2 linked regions of the Homo sapiens genome follow. The protein of the gene in region 2 purifies or fractionates together with the protein of the main gene of each other region. This does not show direct contact. Each region holds a gene or a part of one and is shown on either strand. Other genes may lie near its edges. The genes, in order: CSNK1A1 and FAM83D.

Region 1 (7,282 bases), on a different chromosome or scaffold from region 2:
ATCGGCCTCCCAAAGTGCTAGGATTATAGGTGTGAGCCATTGCACCTGGCAGATTACTTGAATTCTTTGTTTTTCTCTTTTGAGACAGAGCCTCATTGTCACCCAGGTTGGAGTGCACTGGGGGGATCTCAGCTGACTGCAACCTCCGCTTCCCAGGTTCAAGAGATTCTCCTGCCTCAGCCTCCCGAGTCGCTGGGATTAAAGGTGAGCACCACCTCACCCGGCTAATTTTTGTATTTTTAGTAAAGATGGGGCTTCACCATGTCGGGCAGGCTGGTCTCTAACTCCTGACCTCAAGCGATCTGCCCGCCTCGGCCTCCCAAAGTGCTGGGATTACAGGCGTGAGCCACCGTACCTGGGCGGATTACCTCAATTCTTACTCTCTTCCAACTAAGAGTTTGAGCCACATGTAATCTATTCCCCCCCCTTTTTCAAGACCAGTTCTGGGTTGTGCCTAAGGAACCCTACCCTAGTTTAGGACTGCTACCACTTGATCAGACTCCATGACTATGTGATATTTTAATTGCTTTTTATTTGGTACTGTACAAAGTTGGAGAGTTCCAGAAGGCACTGACAGCCACTTATATCTAATATGAATTATAACTATTCTGGAAAAGTTACATTCTACTTTGAGTATGATTCAACTCTCTATCCACTCCAAACTAAAATCACCTATTTACACTACAAATAGAAAAATGCCAAATTAGTCCCAAATAAATCAGTTTCTGAAACCTTTTATTCATGTTAGCTAGATCTGCTTTACTTTAGTATTTATCAGAATGAATTTGTTAGGTAAATTTAACCAATTTCCCTCACAGAGTTTATAATCTTAAAATACCTTAAAAACTGACCTGAAAAGAATGCGGAATAGCTGCCTCAGATACATGTAATCTGGGGCTTCCTCAAAGCGTAGCCCACGACAATAGTTTAAGTACATCGCAAATTCTGCAGGAAACCCCTATAGGTTCAAGGGTTAAAACAAAGTTAAAAACAAACATTTCAAGATAGAAAAATAAATGCATTTAAGTATAAGCAAAAAGATATTTTTGGGCGGGATATTTTACCATTTCATAGGAAGATATGAGAGCTAAAATGATGGCTTGGTCTCCTCATAAATTTAAATAAAATTTCATGACCCTACCTACCCTATTATGTACAATATTAGTAGAAGAAATACATATGTTCTTCCCATATAGTGCTTTTCCTATACAGTACTATGTTCTTAAATAACTTACATAGCCCACTTGTTAAAACCTGTCATTTTATCAAAGTCGCGCCTCTTCGTGAACTTTTTTTTTTTTTAAAGACAGGGTCTCAATCTGTCTCCCAGGCTGGAGTGCAGTAGTGTAATCTCAGCTTACTGCAACCTCCACCTCCCAGGCTTCAAGCGATCCTCCAACCTCAGCTTCCTGAGTAGCTGGGACTACAGACACGAGCTACCACGCCCAGCTAATTTTTTGTATTTTTTAGTAGAGACAGGGTTTTGTCAGATTGCCAAGGATGGTCTCAAATTCCCGAGCTCAAGAGATCTGCCCCCCTTGGCCTCCTTGGTCTCCCACAGTGCTGGGATTACAGGTGTGAGCCACCATGCCCAGCCTTCAGAAGTTTCTAAATGGTTGCATGATATTCTACCTAGTATATACATCATTAACTTGTTCTTTATAATTGAACATTTGGATGTATTCTAATTTTTCTCTATTATTAATAATACTGCTAAGTACATCTGTGGGCATAGAATTTTTCCATTTAGCTCCTTAGGAAAGATTCTCAACAATGTATAAACATTTTCAAGGCTCTAGGTATCAGTCACCAAAAGGATTTCCCCAATCAGCAATGTGGAAATACAAAATATTAAAAGAGCACAAACCTCTATATCTCCTCTCCTAGAGTAAATGCCAATGTGGAGAGTGGTAAAGTTAAAGGAGGCAGTCTCTTTCTACAACCTTATGATTGTAGAGTTAAAGTTACAATCTCTTTCTACAACCTTATGAGAAATTTCTCATGTCCTGGAGTTAGGAAGGATAGAATGGAAATGCTTGCAACATTTTTTATTGATTGCACCGATATAAATTGGGTGACCACTTGAAACATATACATATGTTAAAAGATGTAAAATAATACATATTATACATCTTTCTAAAACTCAACATTTATATACATTTATGGCCCGTGTTAATGGTAAACAGTATGACAATGAGACTGAAAACAATCTCACCACTTTATAATTACTATTTTAACTCTCACTGATTTCTTCCCTCAACTATTTATTTGTATACTGCTTTGTACTTAATTTCAGGTATACAATTCTTTCTTGTCTGAAAGACCATATGGCCTTCTTTTTATGGATGAGATCATGGTTATTCATCATGACACAAATACCTCTCTATTCTAAACTCAATTGCCTTTCTATGAAGTTGAAAATTTCAGAAAAAATGAGTGTGATTCAAACTGTCTTCTGTATTCCTGTATTGTTGGACAGCTGCTATTTTGGATTGCTCCAATCTGTCTGCATGTTTCCCTGTTCCTTAATGTACTAATTGTTGATAACCTTTCTTTTCCAGCACTAGTTTAGGGTAAGGAGAATATTTCTTACTTTTTCTTATAGATTAATGAGGTTCTATTGAAAATGTTTACCTGCCCTGTTTATTTACCCCTAGTTTTCAACAGATTAGAGAGCCCTAACAAACCAGAAACATAAAACACTTATTTTACTTACTTAAAACGTTTATTTAACTTATTTTTTATTATTTTACTTATTTTTGTTGTTGTTGAGACAGGGTCTCACTCTGTCACCCAAGCTGGACTGCAGTGGTGCAATCTTGGCTCACTGCAGCCTCGACCTCCTGGGCTCAAGCATCCTGCCCCAGCATCCCCAAGAAGCTGAGATTACAGGCATGCGTCACCATGCCAGGCTAATTTTTGCATTTTTTGTAGCGATGGGGTTTCACCATGTTGCCTAGACTGGTCTGGAACTCCCGGGCTCAAGCGATCCACCCTCCTTCAGCCTACCAAGTGGCTCCTCAACTGTGAGCCACTGTGCCTAGCAAAACACTTATTTAAAAAGACCCCTATGTTAAAAGTCCTTGTTAAAGATATTTAGAATAATAAAAATGTAAATTTAAAATGGTGAATAGCTACCTAATTCAATGTTACAAGTTCCAGAGCTGGCAAATAAAATGTTCCTTTTTCTTCCTGGATCATTCATTCATTCACTCATTTGAGACAGAGTCTTACTCTGTTACCTAGGCTGGAGTGCAGTGGCACAATCTCAGATCCTTGCAAGACAGCCAAGATTCACCACTGCAATTGGAGCCTCCCGGGCTCAAGTGATCCTCCTGCCTCAGGCTCCTGAGTAGCTGGGACCACAGACGTGTATCACTGCACCCAGCTAATTTTTGTATTTTTGGTAGATAAGGTATTTCACCATGTTGCCCAGGCTGGTCTTGTGGAACTTCTGGGCTCAAGTGATCCGCCCACCTCGGCCTTCTAAAGTGCTGGGATTGCAGGCTTGAGCCACTGTGCCCAGCCGGATCATTTATCTATTAAGGTAGAAATGGGGTTTCCCTATGTTGCCCAGGCTGGTCTTGAACTCCTGGGCTCATGTGACCTACTGCCTTGGCCTCCCAAAGTGCTGGGATTACAGGTGTGAGCCATTGTGCCTGGCTTCATTTATATTTTTTTAATATTCATCATGCATACTTACCTTACATAAAACTTCAACAGGCGTGGACATCTTCTTTTCACTAATCTTTTCATATTTTTGTTTCTTTGTTGCAGCCTGTGGAAAAGAATAAAATAAAAAAGATATACTCAGTGCTACTGAGAAGAACCATGGTAGTTTAACGCACTAGACATATAAACATATACCTGTGAGATTCAAGAGAAATTTTAACCCAGAATTTAAAAAATCAAAGTATAATACATCTAAAAAAAATTTTTCCCAAACTGTTAACTTCTGATGTAAGTTTCTTCTCTAAGAATTTAATTTTAGCTATAGGGAAAGGGTGAGTCTAATAGGAATATATGGATATTAGATTTAAGTAAAAATGGCTGGGGCCAAAATTGAAAAGCATTTTCTTTCTTTCTATATATTTTTTTAAGGAGATGGGGTCTCACTATGTTGCCCAGGCTGGAGTGCAGTAGCCATTCACAGGCTCAGCAGTAATTCCCTGTGGCCTCCAACTCCTGGCCTCAAGCAATCCTCCTGATTCAGCCTATCAAGTAGCTGGGACTACAGGTGTGCATCATCATACCCAGCTGAAAAGCATTTTCTTTCCTTTTTCCTTTTCTTTGTTTTTTTGTTTGTTTGTTTGTTTTTTTGAGACAAGGTCTCCCTCGGTTGCCCAGGCTGGAGTGCAGTGGCTCGATTATAGCTCGCTGTAGCCTCGAACTCCTGGGCTCAAAGCAATCCTCCCGGCTCAGCCTCCTGAGTAATTGGGGCTACAGGCATGTGACACTACACCCTGCTATTTTTTTTTTTTAAAGTAGAGGTGAGGTCTTGCCATACTGACCAGGCTGGTCTTGAACTCCTGGGCTCAAGTGATCCGCCTGGCTGGGCCTCCCAAAGTGTTGAAGATTATAGGCATGAGCCACCATGCTCAGCCTGAAAAGCATTTTCTTAACCCATGTTCAACACAAGGGCAAAGGCATCAGATTAATACAAAAAAATTTGTTCATCAATTAGTGACATTAATAAATGGAGTTAACTGTATAAGTCACAATATTTTTCTAAACTAAAAATACTCATATTAGATAAAGCTACCCACCCAAGGACTGAGCACTACAACTAGCTCACAGCCACTCAATAAATACAGGTATTCCTTCAAAGAACTGGTAAGGTACCAAAATAGCCATTAAAATTTAGGACACACCAACAGTGGTGACTCACACCTGTAATCCCAGTTCTTTGGGATGCTGAAGCAGGAGAATCACTTGAGCCCAAGAGTTTGAGACCAGTCTGGGCAACACAGTGAGGCACTGTCTCTACAAAAAATAATTTAAAAATTAGCTGGGCATGGTGGCATGTTCCTGTAGTCCCAGCTACAGGTAGGAGGCTGAGATAGGAGGACTGCTTGAGCCCAGGAGGTTCAGGCTGCAGTGAGCCAGGCATTCCGGCTTGGGCAACAGAGCAAGACCATTCCCCATGCCCCCACCCCCACCCAAAATTAGGATACGGTGATTTATCATTAACATACACTCACAAAAGTAACAGTAAACTCCTAGCTAATAGAAACAAAATGTTAGGACATGTATTGCTGGATAAACAGGTCTTGCTGTACATAAAAACATACATTTTCAACATAATGGCAACACATCAAAATGAGAAAGTCTCCACCTTTCTTAGTCCATGCCCACTTCCATCTAGATAGAGCTAGTGGCTACCAGTGGGTACCAGCTTACTGTCTCTTAGAGGACACTGTTCTTCAGCTGAACTAAGTTCTTACTAAAATGATCTGGTTTCATTTTCCCAGATAAAAGGTAAAAAGTAAATTAAGGTTAATTCTTTATATCTCAGAAAAATCTCAGACTTAGAAGGGACCTTAAATCTTATCTTCTCCAATATATATTTTTATTCTAAAAAAGAGAGAGAAAAATCTGATAATGTGAGTCTGGTTTACCTTTAGCCCTTGCCATGGCAGGCTGGTTCTATTAAAATACATCAAAACATATCCTAATGATTCCATGTCATCTCGGCGACTAGAAAAGAGAACGTAATTTTATAAACTGGAACTATTATTATGAAAAAACATATGAAAGAAAGTCAAGTACCCAGAAGAAATGTTCCCAAATGAGGAGGGAACACTATTTGGTGTCTTACGCAAGAAGCTACTTATTTAAGGTGATTTTAAAAAGTTCATGTGTTACCTACCTCTAAACAAAACTTTTTCCATGGAATCCAAAATCTGACAAACAACTGTCTTACAATTTAATTTTAAAAGAACAGAAACGATTTGGCTAAACAACCCTCTAAATGAGCTTAATGAACCAAGCAGGATGACATTTCTATGTTTTGCAGAAACTCATTAAAAAAAAACTTCAGAAGTACTGAAAAGGAGTTACAACTTAAAACTAATTGAACATCTATATGAATGTATTCATGCATACATATCTATATACACATACATACAAATATATATTTAGATATATATATATTTAAGGATAGGTAATGCCTTGGCGTACAGAAAAAGTGACATTACAGTTTAACCTAGATCATTCAGATATTCATGGATATTTCTTAAGCCTGAAATTCTTGGTATGAGGTTCTTTAACCTGGAGGCATATCATTGTTTTTTCTACTTATTACTTCTATGCTAGTTTTAAGGAGCAAAAAGTGACTGTAAAAGATGAAAGGAACTCGAAACTCTAGAACTCATGTGAAGAAATAGGAAGAGAGCAGAGACTGTTACTTTTTTTACTTTAAACTAGATCCTATTAATTTATATATTTGAGTGAAGTATAACAGGAGATGGTCCATCAACCCACTTTTGGTTTATTAGGACACTGATAACATTTTCCTTTTAAAAATAAATAATGCATTCTTCCCAAACTCAGCGTGAATTACTAAAGTATAAAAAGCCCCAAATAGCTCTAAAAATATATGTACTATCTTCAGCTGCAAAAAGAAACGTCAACATTGCACTTATGCTTCTAACTTTCTATCACGCAGTATTTTCCCCCCAAGAGACAACCTTCAACAACAACAAAAAATCCAGAAGACCTCATTTAACGGTCTTCTCTACACTGGTTAAAGCAGCAGGTAAAATGATTAATAAGCATCCTTCAAATCCTCAGCCAAGAAACATCCTTAGACATTGTAAGAAACTAAAATATTTCAAAAACCCATTGATGGCTTCTGCTATGGCTATGATAAGCACATTCCATTTTCGAACTTACCTCTGCTCAATACCAAGATGTGCATTGATGCTAGCATATCGGGCAGTGCCAGTGAGGTTTTTATCTTCTCTGTATGGTATGTGTTGCCTTGTCCTGTTGTCTCTGTACTTTTTGGCCAAACCAAAATCAATAAGGAATAACTTTAAAAGAGAAATACAGAAACATTAGGTTTCCAACCTTGTTCAATTAAACTGCGTCTTATTCATTAAATGGTATCTATTCTATGCATTCAAATATATCAAAATAAAGTATCCTAAGTATTAATAGAACAGATAATGAACAGACTTAACACCCCCCCATAAGCTTTTACTAGTCTTCATCAATAAATCAAGTTAAAAAAAAAAAGTCTAGTAGTTTATCCTTGTCGTTTGCAGATTTCACAGGCCCA
Region 2 (7,282 bases):
CCTCAGCCTCCCAGTTAGCTGGGATTACAGGTGCGTACCACCACACCTGGCTAATTTTTGTATTTTTAGTACAGATGGGGTTTTGCCATGTTGTCCAGGCTGGTCTTGAACTCCTACCTCAGATGATCTGCCTGCCTCGGCCTCCCAAAGTGCTGGGATTACAGGCATGAGGCCCCATGCCCAGCCTGCTCTGTGCTTTTAACAAATGTTATGTAACTGAATCCTCAAAGCAGCCCCTATCAGGTAAGTGGCACCTGTGTTTTAGACCAGGAAATAGTGACACAGAGAATCCAAGTGTCCACCACTTCAAAGTAGTGGGCCTAGGGTCTGCCTCCTTGTATGTCTGCCTCCAACCCCAGTGTCTGTAATCACTATTACATGCTGCTGCTGTTCATTTCTCATTATTGTAAAATTAGATTTTATGTCTATTTCTCTGATTCTGAAAATGACCTAAGTGTTTCAGTGGAAGCCTATACAACATAGCTAGCTTGGTCACTTTCATGGAAAGAAGAAAGAAAAATTGTCATATTTATTACAGAATTTGTTTTTTTGTTGTTGTTGTGTTTTTTTGAGATGGAATTTTGCTCTTGTTGCCCAGGCTGGAGTGCAGTGGCACGATCTCAGCTCACTGCAACTTCTGCCTCCCGGGTTCAAGCGATTCTTCTGCCTCAGCCTCCTGAGTAGCTGGGATTACAGGTGCCCACCACCACACCCGACTAATTTTTTGTATTTTTAATAGAGACAGGGTTTCACCATGTTGGTCAGGCTGGTCTCAAACTCCTGACCTCAACTGATCCACCCGCCTCGGCCTCCCAAATTGCTGGGATTACAGGCATAAGCCACCATATCCGGCCCAGAATTTGTTTTTTAAAAATTAAGCAACCCATGGCTTCTCAGCCTTTTGGCTAAGATCAAGTGTAAAAATTAAGCATCTTAACCTGTGAGCTTCAGAACTTTATTTGTTCATCACCTGTATGAGTATCTATTATGCACTGGGTACTAGATATAAAGCAGTCAGCAAAACGAATTTAGTCTTTGGTACTATAAGTTACTGCCTAAGAGACTCTAACTTACCACCTTATTATTACCAAGCAATTTGGTTTACAGAATTCAGATTCTCCCACAGAGTTCTTGTTGGTTGCCTCATGATAAAGACAGGATTGGGGTTTCTAGACCAATTGAGATGAGACAGCCATGTAACCCAACAGGTGGTTAGAAAATGAGTCCAGGTGGACCCAAGGAAGATACACTTTGGCATGGAAAAGAGCATTATCAGCTAGCCAGGTAAAGAAATGGAAGGTATCAGTGTTTAATTTCAAGGTACTCTTTCTATAATTAAGGCTATGCATTAGCAGAGAAATCACAGAATTGTTCTGGCCACAACTTTGGTCAAGTGATTTTCTCTATTTATCTACTAGACAGAAATCTATGAGCAGGCACCGGTTCAGTTGCCTACTGTTGGTTGTTGCCTTCATAGGTGTCCAGATCCTCTGCAGGGGGGTTTAAGAAGGCCTATTTCTGGCCGGGCGCGGTGGCTTACGCCTGTAATCCCAGCACTTTGGGAGGCCGAGGCGGGTGGATCACGAGGTCAGGAGATCGAGACCACCCTGGCTAACACGGTGAAACCGCGTCTCTACTAAAAATATAAAAAATTAGCCAGGCCTGGTGGCACACGCCTGTAGTCCCAGCTACTTGGGAGGCTGAGGAAGGAGAATCGCTTGAACCCGGGAGGCAGAGGTTGCAGTGAGCCGAGATCGCGCCACTGCACTCCAGCCTGGGCAACAGAGAGAGACTCTGTCTCAAAAAAAAAAAAAAAGGCCTATTTCTCTGGCCTCCCCAGTTTTTGTAGTTTTACCTCCTTCCTGGGGAAGCACTGTCTTCCCTGGTTGCTTGTGTCTCCTGTTCCTCTCTGTGCTAGTGAATTTGTGCCCCTTGCTGTATGGGGGCTGATGTCCCCATGCTCTGCCTCTGTAGCTGGTTCAGAATGTTGGGTTGTGCTGTCTGTAGGAACTTGGTCACACATTGATGTGCAGGCGCTCACAAGTGCTTTGGCCACGATCACAGAGGCATATGCAACATTCAGATGTGTGTCAAAGGGAAAGATACAGAAAACCACACCTAATCTGCCCATAATGGTATTCTTATGCTTATTATATGTTGATCCTTTAAGACTTGGCTCAGGGGTCATCACCTCCTCCAGGAAGCTCTCCTCCCACCAAGTCCAGGTGTACCTCTATGACATTCCCTAGTCGTTTTTCTTTTTTTAATTTTTATTTTGAAATAATTTAAGATTTATAAAGAAGTTACAAAAATAATATAAGAAATTCCTGAATACTCTTCACCCAAGTTCTCCACATGTTAACATCTTACAAACCTCAGTACAAATAACAAAATCAGGAAATAAACTTGATATCAATACTATCTAATTTACAGACTTATACATTTCCCGGTCGTTCCACTAATGCCCTTTTTTATGGTCCAGGATCCAATCCAGTCCAGGATCACACCTTACATTTAGTTGTCAAGTCTCCTTCATGTGATTTAATCTGGAACAGTTTCTCCATCTTTCTTTGTCTTTTAGGGTCTTGACCTGCCCCCACCCCCCCCCCACCACCCCACCCCCCGTTTTTTTTTTTAAGAGATAAGGTCTCGCTATGTTGCCTAGGCTGGTCTTGAACTCCTGGACTCAATTGATCCTCTTGCATCAACCAGCCTCCCAAGTAGCTGGAACGACAGACATTTGGCACTGCGCCCGGCTGGATCTTGACACCTTTAAAGAATACTAGCTAGCTGGGTGCAGTGGCTCACGCCTGTAATCCCAGCACTTTGGGAGGTTGAGGTGGGCAGATCACCTGAGGTCAGGAGTTTGAGACCAGCTTGGCCAATATGGCGAAACCCCGTCTCTACTAAAAATACAAAACAATTAACCAGGCATGATGGCAGGTGCCTGTAGTCTTAGCTACTCGGGAGGCTGAGGCAGGAGAATTGCTTGAACCTGGGAGATGGAGGTTGCAGTGAGCCGAGATTGTGCTACTGCACTCCAGAGTGAGACTCCACCTCAAAAAAAAAAAAAAAAAAAAAAACAATTTTTTGTAGAATTTGGGTTTGTCTGATGTTTTATCAAAGTTAAATTCAGATTACGCATTTGGTAAGAAGACCACAGAAGTAGCATTATGTCTTGCCATAGTTTTGTGTTTTATTTTTAGCTTATTTTGAATATTGATAGATTAACAGAAGTTGCAAAGATTGTACAGAAAAGTTTCATGTACCCTTCACCCAGTTTCCCCAAATGTTACATCTTATGTAACTTATGGTACAATGTCAAAACCTGGAAATTGACATTGTATACAGCTTTGTGCCATGTTATCGTCATGCATGCATATCCAGACAGAAGTTTCCATCACCACAAAGATCTCCCTCCTCCTGCTCCTTTATATAGTCACATCACTCCCCTCACTTTAACCCCTAGCAACCACTAATTTGTTCTCTATTTCTATAATTTTGTCGTTTACAGTCTATTTTGTAAATGGAATTATACAGTATGTGACCTTTCAAGATTTGCTTTTTTTCTCTCATCACAGTGCTTTTGAAATCCATCCAAGATGTGCACGTATCAACAGTTTGTTCCTTTTCATTGCTGAGTATTGTATGGTATCTTATACCATTCAGCCACTGAAGGACATTTGGATATTTCCAGTTTTTGTCTGTTATGAATAAAGTTGCTGTGAACATGTGTAGAGGTTTTGTGTGGATATAGGTTTTCATTTCTCTGGATGCTGTTATGTGTTACTGTAGTTTCTAAATCAATTAGTTTTCTCTCTCTTATTCTAGTCCTTGAAGGTAAGGAGCATGCCTTACATCTCTGTTGTCTCACGGCTTGGCACATAGTAGGGGCTCTCTATGTTTATGGAATCAATGAGTCAAACAAAAATCTTACACGTTTAATTTAAATGTGTAAGATTTCTAACGATATAGAGCCACTGGTCTGCTCCAGAGAATGCAGATTGTTGTAGTATTTTGTATGCCATTGTTTATACATTTATGTGTGTCATTTTACAGGAATAATTATGCATACATGTGCAGTATATTGCCCCAGCATACCACTACCAGTGTACGTTTTTGGTAATTATGTATTTGTAGGAGATGTGACATTGCTTGTTAAGCCACATGTGATATGAGTGTTTCTGCCTCAGCAGGCCTGTACTAGAGAAGGCCTGTCCTGTGTTCCTATTCTCCATACCCATTATGGTGTTGAGGGTGAGTGAGGATGGACTGTTACTCTAATGTGATGCCATTAAACAAACAAGTTGGAGGAAGATCAGCTTACCTTCTTTCAGACTTTGCTAAAATGTTCTTTATTACTAGCATGTTTTCTTTGATGATTTTATCCCACACATTTTGCTTCAGAATCATTTCTTGGATTCTGTTGTTTAGTATCCCAAAAAGGTTGAGTGTTCTTTTAGAACACATACACGCATGAACTAAGGGTCTCAAAAGTAAATATAAGAAAAGAACAGATGAGAAGATGGACCAAATGTAGAAGTAACATCACTTGAGGCTTGAGAACTGTCTGGCTAGTGTACCATGTATACTGTCACTAAATGGTGACCCTAAGCCACGCATATGCCAATAATTATATCTGGGAATTGTAAACTAAGGCTTTTTGTCCTAACCATTTGCTCAGCAGATGAGTATTGCTGAATTGTTCATTTATATTTCTCCCACTCCCTGCCAACAGTTAATGACAGTTCGGACTATCACAGGAAATATCTACTATGCAAGGTCAGGAACTAAGATTATTGGGAAGGTTCACGAAAAGTTCACGTTGATTGATGGCATCCGCGTGGCAACAGGCTCCTACAGGTAAGTCTCTAACCCGTCCAAGGCTTATTAATCTAAACTCTTCAGAAGAAGCATGTCATGTAAAGGTAAAAGCCTTTTCCTCTCAATGGGAGCCTGTATGGCCATGCATTCTGATATGCGTGCATCTGTGTATAGCAGCTGGTTATCAAAGCCTCCTGTTAGAGGCAGTTTGGGTGGGGGTCACTTCCCCTGTCCTGTAGTCCATAGATTAAAATGCAGAAGTTGAACTTGTATTGAGACAACACAGTCAGCAAGTCCTAGATTTCAAGCCTTGGCCCAGGTCTGCAGGGGACGAACTGGGGGTTAACAGCAACACACAGTCTGGAATCCTGGTTCCTTAGGGATCTGGACCCAGCTTGCCCTGCTCACTTGAAGGTAGGGGCAGTTGCAGGCATCTCCATTAGTGTTGAAGGCAGAGCCAGAGCTGTCAGCTTTAGACTCAAATCCTCCACGTTGCTTCAAGCCTTGTAATTTAGAGCTTTAGTCTAGAAAATACTGATTATGTTTCTGACCCACCTTTGAAGTGTCACATTGGCAATGGCATCTTAAGGTAGAGAGCAGGAAGGTTGAAGAGAGGGTGGGGATAATGAGCGGTTTACATGAATCTCTAGAATTTGTGCCATTTGTACATATGTGGCTCCAATGGTTGTATGTTCTGCCGCCTCTGCGGTAGATTGTCTGATGGTTTGCATGAGGTGTGTCTGTAGAATTTTAAAAAGAAAACCCCATTTTTGAAGAAACACACAACCCTGAGTGATAATTACGTGTCAGCCCTGGGTAAAGGTAGAAATGTGAAGGCTTGTGGAAAATGAGGCAGTAAGATCAAGAAAATCTTGACACCTTTCTTTTTCAACAGTACCCTCATTGCTCAGAACAAAATTTGAACTTTCTTCACCAAAGAGGCTGTGGGAAAAAACAAATTGAACTCTTTTTCTTGGAATTTCCTTTTGTAAGAAGTTTATTAAAAAAATTTGTTTTTAACCTAAGTAGGATTTATCTATATTAACCAAACTTAGCTACAAATGGACTTTTGCTGTTCTAAAATATAAAAACTACCCTCTCCAAATGAAATTGATGACGATGATAGCTTCCATTTGTTGAGGAGGTTTTATAATCTTGGTGTTGGATAGGTGCTTTATTTACATTATCTCATTGAAGGCTTTCTTTTTTTTTTTTTTCGTGATGGAGTCTTGCTCTGTTGCTCAGGCTGGAGTGCAGTGGCGCCATCTTAGCTCATTTCAACTTCTGCCTCTCAGATTCAAGCGATTCCTGTGCCTCAGCCTCCCGAGTAGCTGGGACTACAGGCATGCCACCATGACTGGCTAATTTTTGTATTTTTAGTAGAGATGGTGTTTCGCCACGTTGGCCAGGATGGTCTCAGACTCCTGACCTCAGGTGATCCGCTGGCCTCGGCCTACCAAAGTGCTGGGGTTACAGGTGTGAGCCACTGCGCCCGGCCCAGCCTCATTGAAGGCTTTCAAAAGAATCTTCCTTCTCAGGCTTTGAAGGCAGTTTTCAGGGGGACTTTGCATTAGCCATATCTTGGTTACAGGAGACAGAGTTGACTGTGTTCTATGATCTCTGTTTGAAACCTACTTCTGGTACAAATACCACCATTAGTGGGGTGATGGCAAGTGTCAGCTAACTCTCAAACGTACTGACTCGAAGAACCCGGAAGGAAGCATAGAAAGGTACAGTTGGTTTTCAGTTCATCTTGACGTAGGAGCCACACGCTGATCAGAACACTATATCCTGGTTCTGATGTTTTCGAGTTGACTTTTGTTCTTAGGCAGGCTCTCCCTTTGAAGTCAACGATCCTGGCTTTGTTTATTTTTTGTTTTTGAGACAAAGAGTCTTGCCCAGGCCGGAATGCAGTGGACGATCTCGGCTCACTGCCAAGTTCCGCCTCCTGCGTTTACGTCATTCTCCTGCCTCAGCCTCCCGAGTAGCTGGGACTACAGGCGCCCGCCACCACGCCCAGCTAACTTTTTTTTGTATTTTTAGTAGAGATGGGGTTTCACTATGTTAGCCGGGATGGTCTCAATCTCCTGACCTTGTGATCCGGCCACCTTGGCCTCCCAAAGTGCTGGGATGATAGGCATGAGCCACCGTGCCCAGCCAGATCCTGGCTTTCTTATATGGCCTTTAGTAGCTGTCTCCCAAAGGGTGAAACTCTTTCACTCAGAATTACTATCAATCCCTTCTGTCAGAATCCATTTGATAAAGAAAAAAGAAATCTCTGAAAACTTACTTGGCTCTGGTGGGATCACATGCCCACCCTGAATGAATCCCTGCATCCAAGGGAATAGGATACTCTGGCCAGTGTGGACCACATGCCTGCCCCTATTGTGGTTGGAGAGAGTATGATAATGAAAGCTTTCTGGGGTACAGGTGGGTGTGAGTTCTGCTAGCAGAGGAG

The links.
Region 1: the proteins of FAM83D (region 2) and CSNK1A1 purify together in Homo sapiens (affinity purification with mass spectrometry; 9 studies listed by BioGRID and IntAct, with this or other methods). This does not show direct contact.

The regions. Positions count from the first base shown.
Region 1 is NC_000005.10:149,506,176-149,513,457, forward strand, and holds part of CSNK1A1 (casein kinase I isoform alpha), read right to left. Parts: intron 7,035-7,282; coding exon 6,895-7,034; intron 5,698-6,894; coding exon 5,619-5,697; intron 3,779-5,618; coding exon 3,704-3,778; intron 959-3,703; coding exon 852-958; intron 1-851.
Region 2 is NC_000020.11:38,943,138-38,950,419, forward strand, and holds part of FAM83D (protein FAM83D), read left to right. Parts: intron 1-4,738; coding exon 4,739-4,863; intron 4,864-7,282.